Homo sapiens: one gene and its partners. The protein of the gene in region 2 purifies or fractionates together with the protein of the main gene of each other region. This does not show direct contact. Each region holds a gene or a part of one and is shown on either strand. Other genes may lie near its edges.

Region 1 (4,274 bases), on a different chromosome or scaffold from region 2:
GGTCACTCACCGGGTGGGCTGCTGCTGCATTTTAGGGGTAAAGCCAAGCCCAGCGAGAATGACTGATGCCCTAGTAGAGAAGAAATCGAAGAACTCAGTTGGAACAGTCCACAGAAGGGAAAGGAAATCTGAAGGAGGGAGGGGGAGCTTTAAATACCTGGCAGGTGCCTTGTCAGCCTCAATCTCCTCCAGTTTGGCATAGATTTCTGCCAGCTCTGCAGCTTCAGAGCCCTCCGCCCTGGAGGGAGGAGAAACAGCAATTGGCCTAAGCAGGGGCAGTCTAGGAGGATGTCCTGCACCCTATACCGTTGGAAAGGCCATTGGCTACCTTGTGGCTGGAAGAGGAAGAGAATACAGGAAGGGTTTGCACAGTGCTCATTACCTTGGGCACTATGGAAATGGGCACTGTGGAAAGAACAAGAAAGGGCAATGGGCACTGTGGAAAGAACAAGGGCTTCTGAGTCCCAGAGTGCCAAGTTCTAAGCTCTGCTGATTACTAGGATGTACATGCAAATTATGGATTGTTCCAGGACGGCAGGCGCTCTGTAAGCGACAGCGGCTGCTAGTTACTCCCTAGCCGGGAGTCCTCACCTGCCAGCAGCAATCTGGGCAGTGAGCTCCCGCTCCCTCCGTAGCAAATCCTCTCGCACACTGTCACTCTCCAGCACACTCTGCAGGGCAGGAGTGTCATCTCCAGCAACCTCTTGCTCAACGTGCAGCAGGGAAATGTGGGCTGGAACCCGCAGACTCCGGGTGGCCAGCATCTTCAGTAACGTTGTCTTCCCCAACCCATTCCGCCCCACCAGCCCGTAACGGCGGCCCCATGCCAGGTTCACATCCGCTCCAGCCAGCAGTACTCTGCAGGAGTGGAGAAAGGAGACCAAAGATGCTCTAGAAATAGGTGCACAGCAAGTTTAATGACAAACCTAACATTGTTTATAGCCCCGTTTCACCTCTCCAAATTGTCCTCTAATTAGAAAAAGAAAGCCAACCCCTGCCACCACTATTCCCTCACCTATCGCCAAAAGACACATCAAAGTTCTCAATTCGCACATCATAGGATTTGTTCTTGCCAGATGATTCCAACCGACTCTCCTTTCTGCTGCCTGCCTGGCTGGCTGATGCCTCTTCTAAGACTCTTTAAAGGGAGAAATGGACAGCTCTTAGTGCTCCCCACCACCTTCTGTCCAGGCAAAAGCTGCTCTGCTCTCTTCTGAGCCATGCTTCCCCCACTCACAGAGGGTTGCTGGTCTTGAGCGTGTCCTTCTCTGAGCGCTTCTCCTGCTTTGCCTTAAGTCGAGCCTCGGCCTTCTCTAACTTCTTTGCATTCACTGTCTAAGGGTCCAAACACATCGACTTCACTCTCGGGTGTAGGCTCAGAAAGGAACCCCAAGAGAGAACATCTCGAGTAAACCCTCTTAACTTACCCATGATGAACAGACTCAAAGGCTCAGGAAAAGACATAGTCAGAAATCCCCCCAAAAGATACTCCAATTAGACAGTCAACTCCCAACCCCATCACAGACAGTCCCCTCCCTTGCTTCCTCCTCCTCACCGAGGACTGTTCCCTCTTTAGCAGTCCTGGAAGTTTGGTTCCACAGTCTGTAAGCGATAAGAAAAGCAGTCACCTTCTCCCTGAGGGAAGGGAAACTAACATTTTGAGTGACTAATAGGAACCAGGCACAGACACAGATGTTTTCTACAAAACCTTATAATACTGCAGATAGATGGCTATTATCTTCCCTGCACTAAAAACAAAACAAAACAAAACAAAACAAAACTCACGTAGAAGGATACAGAGGCATAGACAAGGCTGGGGACAGATAACCAACTCTTACAAGATCATGCAGCTGGTTAGCAAGTTGCAAAACTGGGGGTGAAAGCAAGTCTGTCCAGCTCCAGGCTCTTATGCTTCCTATCCTACCCAAGAGCTTGGAGGGAGAACCCTCCAACCTCCTCCCCACCCCCATCATGGGCTCTTCTGCCCTCGGTAAAGACATCAACTAGCTCCTACAACCTTGTCCTGTGGAAAAGACGTAGGAGCCCTAAGCTGCAGGCAGCAGATGGTTGGGGGCGGAGAAAAGCACAGGGGGGCAGTTAGTTCAACCTCCCCTCACTCTCACCGTAGTTCTCCGTTATCTTTGACAACTGGATAGGGGCGTCCAGTAGCACCTGGCTATTTCCCTGGCTTTGTGGCTCAGCCCTATGTGGGTAGGGATAGAAAGCGCAGAGTTAGGAGTTGAGGGAAAAGCTCTATGGCCATCAGATCTTCCTCCCCCACCTCTTGTCTCCGGACCGTTCGCCGTCCCTTCGCCCCCATCAACCCCTACTCCCTGGCACATACAGACGCAGAGTGTTGTACATGCGCTGGCACACGGCCCTGATGCCCGCGTCATCCTTGCTGTCCCCGGACACCTCTTGCAATAGTTCCCCTACAGCTTCCACCAGGTCATCCACAGACTCGAAGTCCGCGCTGCCGCTGTGCAAGACGCCTGGGCAGGGCGTGGTAGAACGAGGAAGGTATCGGGTAGGGTGGACACACAAGCAGTTTCAGACCCCAGACAGAGGCCCCAGTCCAGGCTCCAGACCCAACCAGCCCCCGGGACAAGAGGTCATGCAGAGGAGAGGCCTGGCAACAGTCCCGGGCACGACGCTCGCTTAGACTTTCCCCCGGCCTCCACTTCGGTCTCCCCAGCCGGCCGATTCAGTTCTGCTTACCGGTCACGTAGTCGAAGACTTGTCCGTCAATTTCGGGGAACTCGCTCCGCAGGATTTCGGCGCAAGTCGCCATGTTCCACTCAGGAACCCGTCCGCGCAGTCGCTGTGAGACCCCGGCCTAGGCCCGCCCCCCGCCCTGCCCCCGAAATCTCGCCCTTCCTTGCAAGGCGCATGTGTAGCGGTGACGCAGGAAAGGAGCGGAGTGCGCAGAGCCCGGTGGGCGGGGCGAGCGGGGCCTTGAGGAGAGGCGCCGAGTCTGCGCCGGAGCCGCGCTCTCTGCGCGTGCGCGACACCTTTTCCGCTGAAAGATTAGCCACATGTGCGGTTCTCGCTGCCTTCTGGGAGGTGGAGTTCCGGGAGCGAGGGGTGGGGCAAAGGCTGGGAGCTCAAGGTTTATCGGGGCCGCGAGGCACCCGTGGTCTGGCGGGTGGGAGCCTCCCAAGAGGCAGGCGGCTGATAAAGCACTTTGGCTTTGCCAGGTTTTATGCGCTCCCTCGAGGCGCGTCTGCTGCTGGTGCGTACCCAGTCAGGCCCATTTTGGAGCCTGCCCAGAGCTTTGCTGACTCACCCCGGTCCCTGACTCTCAGAAGCCCCCTGCTCAGTGCTTTGCTTTCGCGGGTCCCCAGACCCTACGGGCTTCTCAGCCTGGTGGCCAGCGCCACCCGCCTCCCCGCCGCGACCGCCTTTTCACTGTGTAATTCAGCCGACCTTTGTGAATTAAGCCCATTCAGTTCTTCCACCACCCCAGGGCACGACCAAATCCACCGCCAAAGGGCAAGAAAACCAGGACAACGTGGCCTGTATAAATTATTCCCTACCTACACCCTGAGCAGACTTCTCTGCACTCAATAAATGCCAATAAAAGGCTATTTCCTTTCACCGATTCCCTCGGGAAGTTAGGAATTTCCTCCAAAATGATGCTACTGCTTTATATTTAACGTGAATATTCCTCCAATTGGTCTCTAAAAGTGGCACCGAAAATTACATTATTACCCATTCATCCCTTTGGATTAAACATTGCCATCATGAGGCATCAATCCCGATATTGAACCATTTTACAGGAAATACAGGTAAAGAGGAATATGTTAAGTGACTTCATGGGGACAACAGGCAAATTCTGATGTGGTAAACTACAGAACTCTGGTTTCTTCCACAAAATTGCAAGACCTGAAGGGAAACATCAATTTTTAAAATTTGAGGAGCATTAACCAACCACAATGGACCTTATCTGGAAAAATTTGATAAGACACCTGGTTAAGTGAACACAAACTGGATGTGATATTAAGGAACTGGCCACGCATTGATCATAGTTGAAGCTGGGTGATGAGACATGGAGATTCATTATATTCTTTTTTTTTTTTTTTTTAATTTGAGAAGGAGTTTCGCTCTTGTTGCCCAGGCTGGAGTACAGTGGCGTGATCTTGGCTCACCGCAGCCTCCACCTCCTGGGTTCGAGCGATTCTCCTGCCTCAGCCCCCGAATAGCTGGGATTACCGGCATGCACCACCACGCCCGGCTAATTTTGTAATTTTAGTAGAGACGAGGTTTCCCCATGT
Region 2 (3,500 bases):
CTGTAATACCAGCACTTTGGGAGGCCAAGGCAGAAGGGCTGCTTGAGACCAGGAGTTCGAGACCAGCCTGGGCAACACAGCAAGATTCTGTCTCTTAAAAAAATTTAAAAATTAGCTGTTATGGTGGTGTGTGCCTGCAGTCTTAGCTATTGGGGAGGCTGAGGTGGGAATATTGTTCAAACCCTGGAGCTTGAGGTTATTTTTCATAAACGTAATTATTAAGAACTCAAAATCAACATCAAAATTACATTAGTCTGTTTTATAACAGATTTTTACTCTTTTTAGAAGTTAACGTACCATATCTCATCTATACAAAACCTTCCTGGCATAAGGAAGTTTTAGCTTGGACATTATAAAAGGAAGAGTGTTTCTTTCTTTTTTTTTTTTTTGAGACGGAATCTCGCTCTGTCACCCAGGCAGGAGTGCAATGGTGTGCAGTCTTGGCTCACTGCAACCTCTGCCTCCTGGGCTCAGACAATTCTCCTGCCTCAGCCTACCAAGTAGCTGGAACTACAGGAGTGTGCCACCACACTGGATAATTTTTGTATTTTTATTAGACACGGGGTTTCACTATGTTGGCCAGGCTGGTCTCGAACTCCTGACCTCGTGATCTGCCTGCCTCGGCCTTCCAAAGTGCTGGGATTACAGGTGGAAGAGTGTTTCTTAATATACCAAAACAAATCCCACCAAAACATCTTGTTATATTTTACTTCATCAACAATGTAAAAAGTGAGTGTCCAGAGTACCGAGTGCTGTTTACCGTGTAAGCACAACAAATGGTGCTATATACTAATATTTTAATATAATATTCTGTTATCATATGTTGTGATCTTTTATATGCCCCTCCTTCAAAAACATAAACCACAAAAATCCACCAAAAGCTACAAGAAGAATCCAATCCCTAACTAGATACTTGTGTGATTGTTAGGAATAGTAGTTTCAGAAATAACCTCTGCATCACGCCCTACATTCACTGAACTTTTTGGCACTGGCTCTTGGCCTGTCTTCCCCTCCAGCCTAAGTTCCACATATCCTAGGTGATGTCTACTTTTATGTGGATAACACATTCAACAGCCTCCTATTTCCTTGCCTTTATTTATGAATGAATGAACGAATGTGAAGGAACTTAACATTGAACAATCCACACAGGTTCAGAACACTCTTCTACCACAAGGTAAGAGCTACTTTGTGGTTAGTGAGAGTCACATAGAAAAAGTAACAGAAGACCCCCATCTATGACTGCTCCTTATATAAGGCACTATTAACTATACTTACTGGTCTAGGTAAGGCCAGGTTTGCTCCATACCAGTGATAAAGTGCTCTCCACACAGGTTCTGGGACCATTTCATAGTCTCTTCCATGAATCAGCTGTGGAGTTCGTTTTAATCGTCCTCCTTCTAGTGTTAATGATGTAGCCTGAGAAAGAATAGAATGACAATGTTGACTTTCAATATTACAAAAGTTTTTGGGTCTCAGCAATACCTAGAAACAGGAAAACAAACTCATATATCACCACCCAGTTTCATGTTGCTGGAAAAACTTAATTTTTTTTTTTTTTTTTTTTTTGAGACGGGGTCTTGTTCCGTCACCCAGGCTGGAGTACAGTGGCGCGATCTTCGCTTGCTGCAGCCTCCGCCTCCCGGGTTCCAGTGATTCTCCTGCCTCAGCCTCCCGAGTATCTGGGATTACAGGCACACGTCACCATGCCCGGCTAATTTTTGTATTTTTAGTAGAGACGGGGTTTCACCATGTTGGCCAGGCTGGTCTCAAACTCCTAACCTCAGGTGATCTGCCCACCTCAGCCTCCCAAAGTGCTAGGATTACAGGCATGAGCCACCACGTCCAGCAAAAAAACTGAATTTTTAATGAGAGATTTTTATTTTTGACTTTCAAAATAAACTATGTAAGAAATGAAACTCAAAGCATATCATTTGGAAAAATCACTAAAGCACTTGAAATAACTTCACAGATTTCTTTCAAACAATAAAAAATACTAGTTTGGAAAAAAAAATTCATACATAGCGTATGTGAAACAACATTTTCAGAATAGCTGTCCTAAGTAAGAATAACAATAATGCCAAGGGTTACTAAACTACTTCTATGTAAGTTCTAAATCATAAATATTCTCACAGAAATGTACTATACAAAGAGATGTCCATCTATAATACAGTAATTAAATGAACCATCAATGTTTTGCTATGTGCTAAAACCTCTGAAATGAAATTTATTAATAGCTTGCAAGAGAATAATTTTAAGTTTAGATGTAAAATTACTTACCTTTACTGGTTCTTGAGTTACTAATGGCTGATTATCAATAGCCCCTGGTTTCTGAGGGTTAAGGTGCAACAAAATATTCCCATTGGCTCCCAGCAAACACTGGTTGTTATTGTCAGAAGTGTTATGTTGTCGAGCAAAGCAAACATCTGCCCCTGGTGTGGCAGAATACAGAAAGCCTATAAAAAAAAAAGAGGATAGAATCTCTTATTTTTAGTTATTATACATAAACAGGCTTGAGGATATGAACTCAATGCCCATGTATTGTATTACTCTGTTGACATGTCAGTACAGATTAAGATTCTGGTAATTCTGTAGAAGACAGGAAATGTTATCCTTCTCTGAACAATACATGGCATGGTACTAAAAATAAGAGCTTTTAAAATTATTACCAAATGAACATTTGGCCACCCTCCTAGAATATCTAATAATTCATAATGAGAATTATATGTCCTCCGACTGGAAGGGAAGAGCTGGGCTAAGTGGCTGGGCTTCTACATAGCATCCTTTAATTATTTTCCTCAAACTAGAAAAATATTCCAAATGTTCTTGGTAGATAATGGTGATATGAAGTCACTAAATTAAAAGAAAACTAAAACAAGAACTCCAACAAAAGAGTAATGGGGGCTAGATCCTATTGTATCTATGAACTCAATGTCCACAAGTTCTTTTGAAAGAAATACATGATCTTTACAATACGAAAATATGCACAGAAGATGATTAACCATGGCTTAGAGTTGTGAGCCTCAGTGGTATTTTAAGCCATTTCAACTCTCAACTACATGCTAATCTTTGGTAAACAATCTAGCAGTCATCACTTTGTAACCTTCTGCCTGTGGTATGCAGCCTTTGGGTGTCACAAGTTATATGGTAAGCACATACCAAACAGGATCTTTAGATGGGGTTAAGAAATAATCCTCATGTTAAAGCTGATGACAGCACTTCTAGGACTGCTAAGTGATCTTTGTAATACCAGAAAGGGAGGGAAGAAGCAGATTCTACAAGGAGCTTTGTGAAGAAAATGCTAGCTCTGTCCAATTTGCTTACACCTTCCACAGAAAAGGAAAAGAACATCTTGGAAGAAATAATAACACACGCCAGGAGGAATGGCTCATGCCTGTAATCTCAGCACTTTGGGAGGCCAAGGCTGGAGGACTGCTTGAAGCCAGAAGACTGCAACCAGCACAGGCAACATGAGACCTCGTCTCTACAAAACAATTAAAAAA
Region 3 (4,027 bases), on a different chromosome or scaffold from region 2:
ACCCCCCATCTCGACACATTACAAAAAGAAGTTATTAACGTCTAAACCTTAGGTTGAAATAACTATTGTTCTACTTTTCTTTTTCTCCCAACTAGGTATTTCTAATTCTCCTACCGGATACACACAAACTAATAGTTAATATAGCGCAAAGATAAAGATACACACACCGAACTAAACGCTGAAGAGGCTAACGGAATTGCTTTCAACTAGATTTAAACAGAAATATTAAATCCTCATAAGAAAAAAAAAAACAGCCTCAAAGAGAACCGGTCAGTGAAAGTGCAGAGTGGCTGGAGCAGGCGGCCTGGGGGAGGGGCGAGGCCTGGCGCTGCGCGATTCCGCATGGAAGAGTGACCTCTGGAGGCACCGGGCGGGCAGCGGCGCCGCGGGCTCCCCGCGACCGCCTCGCCCGCCCGCCCGCCTCTCCCGGACTCCGGGACCCGCTGCTGCGCGAGGTCCTAGCCCGGCTCCTTCCGGCACCACCTGGCGCCTCCCGAGCCGGCATCGATGCAAAGATGCCGCCGCCAGTACTTCATCAGCAAATACAACAATTTACATTAAAAATATAATCCATGCAAGAGCAGACTACATGGAAGGAGGCAGAGCTAAGTAACTTCTCCGTATGAGCGGTGTTGAAAGTGCCTTCTAGCATCATACAAACATTTGTTTAAACCGATTTGTAACCGACGTTTTCGCCCTTTTCATGAAGGGATTCTTGGTTAACATGTTAGTGAATTTGAAATTTGACACTTTTAAGAGAATGGACACACTCCTTTAAGACGTGATTTCTAAATCAATCCCCCATTTCTTTTCTCCTAAAACCAGGCCCAACTTGCTCAACTTCAATTAGGCCATTGATTTTGCTTCTGATCTCAAACGTTTTCTCCAGAAACCAGCTAATGTCTGCATACTTCTTCTCCAAGTTTCCCGAGACTACAATTCCAAGATTCTGTAAAATATGTTTTGGCTGTGATTCGAAATAAGGGGATACACAGTACTGAATACCCAGATGACTACGAGTTATGACCACACAGATTTAGGGATGGATGGGATTTTCTAAATTCTGAATGCACTCTGGTGGCCCAAACTGAAAGTTACTCTCCACAAGGCCTGGCTCGCTCCCGGCTGTAGAGTCCGGTAAGAGCAAATCTGATCCTAAGGATCCCATTCCTACCAGGGTCCCGAGGGAGAAGGCTTCAGGAGCAGTGTCGACTGGGCAGGGCCCTAAGCTTTTATAGGAAGTGCATTACAATCAGGTCGGCCATCGAGACCGCATACTCCGGGGCTACCGGCTTATGAACGAAGCGGGAGGCCGAGGTGCGGCGGGCCCTCAGGGAGAAGCCTAAGGCCCGTCTCCCCGGCGCGGAGGAAAGGGCTCGACGCCCGAGTTCTCCTGCGAAGCAGGCGAGCTCCCCGCGCACCCTCGGGCTGGCGGCGCGGTGCCAAGGCGCCCCGGCTCCAGGGCTCTGCGGGCAGCGTAGCGACTCCAGGCTCCCCTCTCCAGAACGCGCTTCGCTGCCAGCGTCCTGCCACCCCGGTCGCCCGCCCGCGGGCCCCGGACCACGCCGCCCGCGCTCCCCGCGAATGCAGCATCTCCGCCTCTCTCCAGAGCCCACCAGTCCCCGCGTGCCGGCCAGCCTAGATTGTGGCCATGTCCTTCGTCCTCGAAAACAGGAGAGGGTCAGGTATCGCCATCGGACACCTTCCCGGACTTGACACCCGAGCCGATAGTAGCTTTTAGCGCCTGGGAGCGTTCGGGGGAGGAAAGGCGGAGAGACCGTCCGTTCCAGCGGGGCTCGGGTTGGAAAGCCGAGCGAGGAGTCTCCACCTAGTGAAATGGGGCGGGGGTTGGGGGTGGGGGACGGGGAACCGAGGTTCCAGAAACAGGCTCCGAGGCCCCGCGGACTGACCCCTCCTCCCGCCCGGACGGCGCGGCGGACCCCGGGGCGGGGACATAGGGGGATCGCGGACGCCACTTACTTGGAGTTCGAGGAATTCCAATAGATAGGCTCTAAAACTATCGATTTGGAAATCGCAGTTCTGCATAAAACCATCAAAACACCCCAGCAGTACTTCCACACGGAGTCCCTTCTCACAGCCATGGCGAAGCCACTCCCAGCTCCGCGCACTCCGGGCCAAGAAGGGACTGACGGGACGCAGGCTGGGACCCCCAATCCTCCGGGGCAGACTGGCGGGGAAGACGGCGTGCGCCCGCAGGCAGCTCCGAGGCGCGCTGCGCAGCTCCAGCGGTCGCCGGGCCAGGTGCGCTCGCTCTCCGGGGCCCTCAGGGCGCGGGGCGGGAGCGCACGCGCGGGGCGCGGCGGCGCGGCGGACTCGGGGTTCCGGGGCGCCGCGCCGGACGCAGCTCGGACGGCCGACTCCCGTGCGGCTCCAGGGTGCCGGGCCGGCCGCGGCTGGCGGGTGGGCGCGGGGCGGGTGCGGGCTGGGACACAAAGACCCGGAGCGGAGACGACCGGCGCGGGCGGCGGGCGCTGCGCCCCGAGCGGGGCCGCCTGTGACTATAGATCCAGTGCAGCGGGCAGCGGCCCGAGCGCGCGGGCGCCGCGTCGGCGCGGTTCCATGTCCCGGAGCACGGAGCGGAGTAGGGCGCCTCCGGGCGCGCAGGAGCCTTCTCAGTCCGCGCGGCTCCCGGCCCCCAGGGCAGGAAAGAGGGAGCTCGGTCCCCGCCGCGGGCTCCGGACGCGCGCGGGCCTTTGTGTGCGGGGAGGGCGCCGGGACCCGCTGCGTGCGCAGCTCCTCGCTCCGGCCGGCGCCGCGGTCCCCGCCGAGGAGAGTCAGCGCGGCCGCCGCGCTGTCAGAGCGCTATAAACGCGGGGCCCCGCCCCGCCGCGCGAAGCCCATTGGCCCGCGGCTCCGCGGCCGCGCGCTGGTTGGACGGCCGGTCCGTCCGTCCGCCATCCCCTCCCGACATTGGGTGCCGCGAGGCGGGGCTCGGGCTGACAGGTGAGCCCCGCCCCTGGCTCCCGCGGGCGGCGGGAGCGGAGCAGAAGCCGGGCAGGAGAAGCGCTCAGCGCGTGCACAGGGCGCCCCCGGGGCGGCGAGAGGCCTTCTGGGCGCGGTGCAGACGTGGAAACAGCGACGGCCGAGTAGCGGGCCACCTGTCTCCGCGCCCGGGGGCGCCTTCCCCCTCGGCGGAATCAGAGGGCGCGGCTTTCCCTCGAGCAGTGCGGAAGGCAGCAGGCTCCGCTCGGCGTCCCTTCTCCGCAGATGCGGCGCTGCCCCGCGTGCAAGACTTGCACTCCGCGCGCACCCTTAGAGCTCCCGGCTTCTGCGCGCTTCTCCCGACGCCTCTCGGCGAGGGCTTCTCACTTGATTTTGGTACCAATCGCCTACGGCTCAGTTTCAGTCAGTGGGGCCGGGAATTGCAAGACGATTCCTGCGACGCGGCGCCGGAATTTGCAGCTCTAATCAGGGCCTGAGCATCGTCGCCTCCCGCCTTCTCTGCGGGCGTCTCCCTTCCCTCCTGGCCCCCCGGGAAGGTGGCGCCCCTGGAGCTTTCCCCGCGTGTCGCCGGCACAGGCACGACGCGGGGACCGTCTCACTAGCCTCTAGGAGACACGCGCGCTTCCCAAAGTGACCAGAGATTTAGAGGGTGTGAGATGGAAAAGTCAAGGCATGTGCTTCTCACTCGGCGTCTGCAAGACCCCAGAGCAGAGCTGGCAGGAACTCCTCGCTACTTTCCCGGTCGAGCGCCGGTGCTGACGCTCGTCCGTGACTTCCACGGAGCCACAGCGCCCACTAGCGGCCAGCTTTGCTTCTCCGCATCTCGAGCGCTCTGCGGTCCACCGACCCGGATCCAGCATACTGCAGCATCTAATCAAGTCACAGTTCCAAGGAAAATCTTTTTATATGTCCAACAGTAGGAAGAACACGGTAGAAATAAGGCACAGTGCAAATGTACGATTCAGTATGAAAAATTAAAATATACTGTATGCCCACGTTTTTTTTCAATTTAATGCCGTCCACCCCAGGATTTATGTTTCAAACACAAACTGGGCAGTAATTC
Region 4 (3,500 bases), on a different chromosome or scaffold from region 2:
CTGACTCCGTCCTTCCTCCTGAGACACGTGCAGCGAGGGCACCCACTGTGCAGCGAGGGCTCCCGCCGTGCAGTGAGCATACCCCCTGTGCAGTGAGGGCACCTGCCGTGCAGTGAGCATACCCCCCATGCAGCAAAAGCACCCCCCATGCAGCGAGGGCTCCCGCTGTGCAGTGAGCATACCCGCTGTGCAGTGAGGGCACCTGCCGTGCAGGGCTGCTTCAGGGTTTGGCACCATAATGCCTGGATGTGCTCCGTGGCTTCCTCCTTGGTGCCTGTGTTTGGTGGCTGGAAGGCCCAGCACCCTCAGGGCCCAGAACCCTCAGGGAAGTGCCTGGGCATCTGCCAGGAATTAACCCACTGGGTCCCACTTGTCTCAAAGCCTGGCTTGGTAGGATGGCCTGAACTTTGGATGTTTTTCATGCCTTTCGTTACATAGGATCCTCTTGCTGAGGGTGGATCATGCCCTCCACATTGCAAAAGCATCAGAGACCCAGCCCACCCTCGCGTCTGCAGCGGGAAGATGGGCCTGGTGCCAGGCGCGGGCAGCCGCCCCTCCCAGCGTCGGGAAGATGGGCCTCATGCCAGGCATGGGCAGCTGCCCCTCCCAGCGTCGGGAAGATGGGCCTCCGGGTGGTTTTGCGACTCAGTCATCTGCGAATTTCCGGATGCTGCACAGAAGGGGGTGCCAAAGTTTTTTTAAGATGATGTAAAAAAAGCATAAATTTGATAAAAATTATGTCCATTAACCTCATAAGTTTCTACCCATCGGGAAGGATCATCCTTCTGTTTTCAGCAGCAGAAAACTGACCACAGTAGGGGGTTGTCTGTCACTGAGTCCTCAGCTCTGGTGGGAGGGCAGGGTCAGAGCTGGGCAGGGTGGCCAGCTCGGGGATCTGAGCATCTGGGAGCAGGAGGTGGAGGGCCAGGTGAGCACACAGCTGCGAGGAGGTGGAGGACCAGGTGAGCACACAGCTACAGCTACAGGGAGGCTCTGCGCCTGCAGGACAGGTTATTACAGGGGCCGCAGCAGGGCCTGGGCCGCCTCCACTCTGTTGGCTGGGGTTCAGGGGTCCCAGGTCGCCAGGAGCACCTTGCATGTGGCTCGGGATGCACGGAGTCTCCCGTGAGGTGTGGGTTTCTTAGGACCCCAGGGCAGGTGTCCCATGGGAGTATGAACTAAATGCCTTTGTGGACGTTTAGACGTGAAATGTCTGCTCTAGACTCACACACCTGTCTCGCTCCCTCCTTCCAGAACTCTTAAAACGCCTAGATGACGTGTCCAACGATGTGAGGATGGCAGCCGCCTCCACCTTGGTCACCTGGCTGCAGTGTGTCAAGGGTGCCAACGCAAAATCCTACTATCAGAGCAGTGTCCAGTACCTGTACCGAGAGTTGCTGGTTCACCTTGACGATCCAGAGAGGGCCATCCAGGATGCAATTTTAGGTGAGACTCCGACGGCTTGGCCTTCGTTCCGATGCCTGCTTTCGGCGCCTGCCACGGGCATCTGTAGCTGAGCCGTGTGACCGGCCACAGGGCCCTGGGGCACAGGAGGGGCCTCAGCTCCGGCCTGGCACACTCTTGAGTTCTTGGCAAACCCTGAGAGCGGCTGTCTTTGTGGTGATAGCTGCTGACATTTCCTCTAACAGAAATCAAAACTGAGAGTATTCTAGAATACTTGTTAGTTGTTTAAAATAACAATAGTAAGCCCAGTATATATTGACACAGATGGCTTGTGTTTTTGAAAAATACTTTCCAAAACAAAATCATCTGCAAGAACGATTTTTGCAAATGTCTTAAATGTGTAGCTTGATGGAAGACACTGGACTTTCACATCTTCCATACAGTCAGTCATGATGTGTATGGCTCTGGCTGAAATACGTGGAAAATAATCTGGCCTCGCCTGTGGCTTCAAGTGTAGTTGGACAAAAGAAGAGTATTTTAGTAGCCTTTTCAGATAGGCGTGGGACTTCTTCAATACCACGCCAACAGCGACACAGGCCGTCCCTTGAAGGTCACTCACAGCACAGGGCCTGAGGCCACACACCACAGAGCCTTCCACGCTCAGTGCATTAAAATCCGCTGGTCCATCTCACACTTGGAATGTAACGATTTGCTTTTTTTTTTCTTTTTTTTTTTTTTGTTTTGTTTTGTTGTTGGTGAATATAATGACGTTGTTCTTTTTTTTAATAAAATTTGTATTTTTAATTTTTGTGGGTACACATAGGTGTATATAAGGCATGTGTGATACTGTGATACAGGCATGCAGTGTGTGTAAATCACATTGGGGAAATGGGGTCCCCGTCACTTCAAACACTTACACTTTCTTTGTGTTACAAATAATTCAGTGATACTTTTCGTTATGTTTAAATGTGTGATAAATTATTGTTGACCATAGTCACCCTGTTGTGCTATCAAATACTAAATCTTACTCATTCTGTTTTTGTACTCATTAACCATCCCCACCTCTTCCCCCGGCCCCATTCCTCTTCCGAGCCTCTGGGAGCCATCCTTCTGCTCTATCTCCATGAGTTGAATTATTTTTATTTTTAGTTCCCACAAATGAGAATGTGCGGAATTTGCCCTTCTGTGCCTGACTTATTTCACTTAACATAGCGACCTCCACTTCCCTCCATGTTGATCCAATGACTGGATCTCATTTCTTTTGTGGCCGGATAATATTCCACTGCGTGCGCTCCACGTTTTCCTTCTCCCTTCATCTGTCCGTGGACACCCCGGTTGCTTCCACACCTTGGCTGTCGGAACAGTGGGGCATTCGGCGTGCGCGTGCAGCTCTCCCCCATAGCTGAATTCCTCTCTTTTGGGTATTTGCCCAGAAGTGGGATTGCCGGGCTGTATGGGGCTCTATTTTTAGTTTTGGAGGGACCTCCAGACTGTTCTCCCAGCGGTGCTCATTTACATTCCCACCAGCAGCGTGAGGGTTCCCTTGTCTCCACATCCGCGCCGGGACTTGTTTCCGCAGCCATTTTAACTGGGGTCAGAGGATGTCTCACTTGTTTCTATGTGCATTTCTCTGAGGAGCGGTGGTGGTGGGCACCTTTTCAGACGCCTGTTTGTCATTTCCATGCTGTCTTTTGAGAGCTGTCTGTTCAGGTCTTTTACCCATTTTTAATTGGATTATTAGATTGTCTGCTATTGAGCCTGAGCTCCTCATATATTCCAGTGATTAATCCTTGTCAGGCGGCGGTTCTAAGATACAGTCTCCCATCCCGTACCCGCGGGCTGTCCCTGCGGCTGTACTCTGCTCATTCTTCCCTTTGCTGTGTGGAAGCTTTGGGCCTGGATGTGCTGACTTTGCCTTTTGCCTCCTTTGGAAAATACTTAGACCTTCCCCGCGCAGCTGCGTCCGGTTTCCCGGCGTGGCTACATCCGGTTATGCGATGTCGGATCTTCCTGGTGTGGCCGCCTCCCGTCGCGCAGCGTCAGAAACTCGGATCTTCGCGGCGTGGCCGCCTCCCGACACGCGGCGTCAGAAACTC

Evidence for each region. The genes of interacting proteins can lie anywhere in the genome.
Region 1: the proteins of USP32 (region 2) and ABCF3 purify together in Homo sapiens (affinity purification with mass spectrometry; one large-scale study listed by BioGRID and IntAct). This does not show direct contact.
Region 3: the proteins of USP32 (region 2) and EFNB2 purify together in Homo sapiens (co-immunoprecipitation; one large-scale study listed by IntAct). This does not show direct contact.
Region 4: the proteins of USP32 (region 2) and DNAAF5 purify together in Homo sapiens (affinity purification with mass spectrometry; one large-scale study listed by BioGRID and IntAct). This does not show direct contact.

The regions. Positions count from the first base shown.
Region 1 is NC_000003.12:184,184,725-184,188,998, reverse strand, and holds the start of ABCF3 (ATP-binding cassette sub-family F member 3), read right to left. Parts: upstream 2,801-4,274; 5' UTR 2,792-2,800; coding exon 2,719-2,791; intron 2,493-2,718; coding exon 2,345-2,492; intron 2,205-2,344; exon of another isoform or gene 2,204-2,204; coding exon 2,124-2,203; intron 1,636-2,123; exon of another isoform or gene 1,603-1,635; coding exon 1,556-1,602; intron 1,336-1,555; coding exon 1,238-1,335; intron 1,139-1,237; coding exon 1,016-1,138; intron 859-1,015; coding exon 592-858; intron 336-591; coding exon of another isoform or gene 329-335; intron 239-328; coding exon 158-238; intron 71-157; coding exon 11-70; intron 1-10.
Region 2 is NC_000017.11:60,221,134-60,224,633, forward strand, and holds part of USP32 (ubiquitin carboxyl-terminal hydrolase 32), read right to left. Parts: intron 2,454-3,500; coding exon 2,278-2,453; intron 1,417-2,277; coding exon 1,276-1,416; intron 1-1,275. UniProt on the Homo sapiens protein: Deubiquitinase that can remove conjugated ubiquitin from target proteins, such as RAB7A and LAMTOR1.
Region 3 is NC_000013.11:106,532,863-106,536,889, forward strand, and holds the start of EFNB2 (ephrin-B2 isoform 1 precursor), read right to left. Parts: upstream 2,801-4,027; 5' UTR 2,103-2,800; coding exon 1,981-2,102; intron 1-1,980. UniProt on the Homo sapiens protein: Cell surface transmembrane ligand for Eph receptors, a family of receptor tyrosine kinases which are crucial for migration, repulsion and adhesion during neuronal, vascular and epithelial development.
Region 4 is NC_000007.14:778,699-782,198, forward strand, and holds part of DNAAF5 (dynein axonemal assembly factor 5), read left to right. Parts: intron 1-1,254; coding exon 1,255-1,446; intron 1,447-3,500. UniProt on the Homo sapiens protein: Cytoplasmic protein involved in the delivery of the dynein machinery to the motile cilium.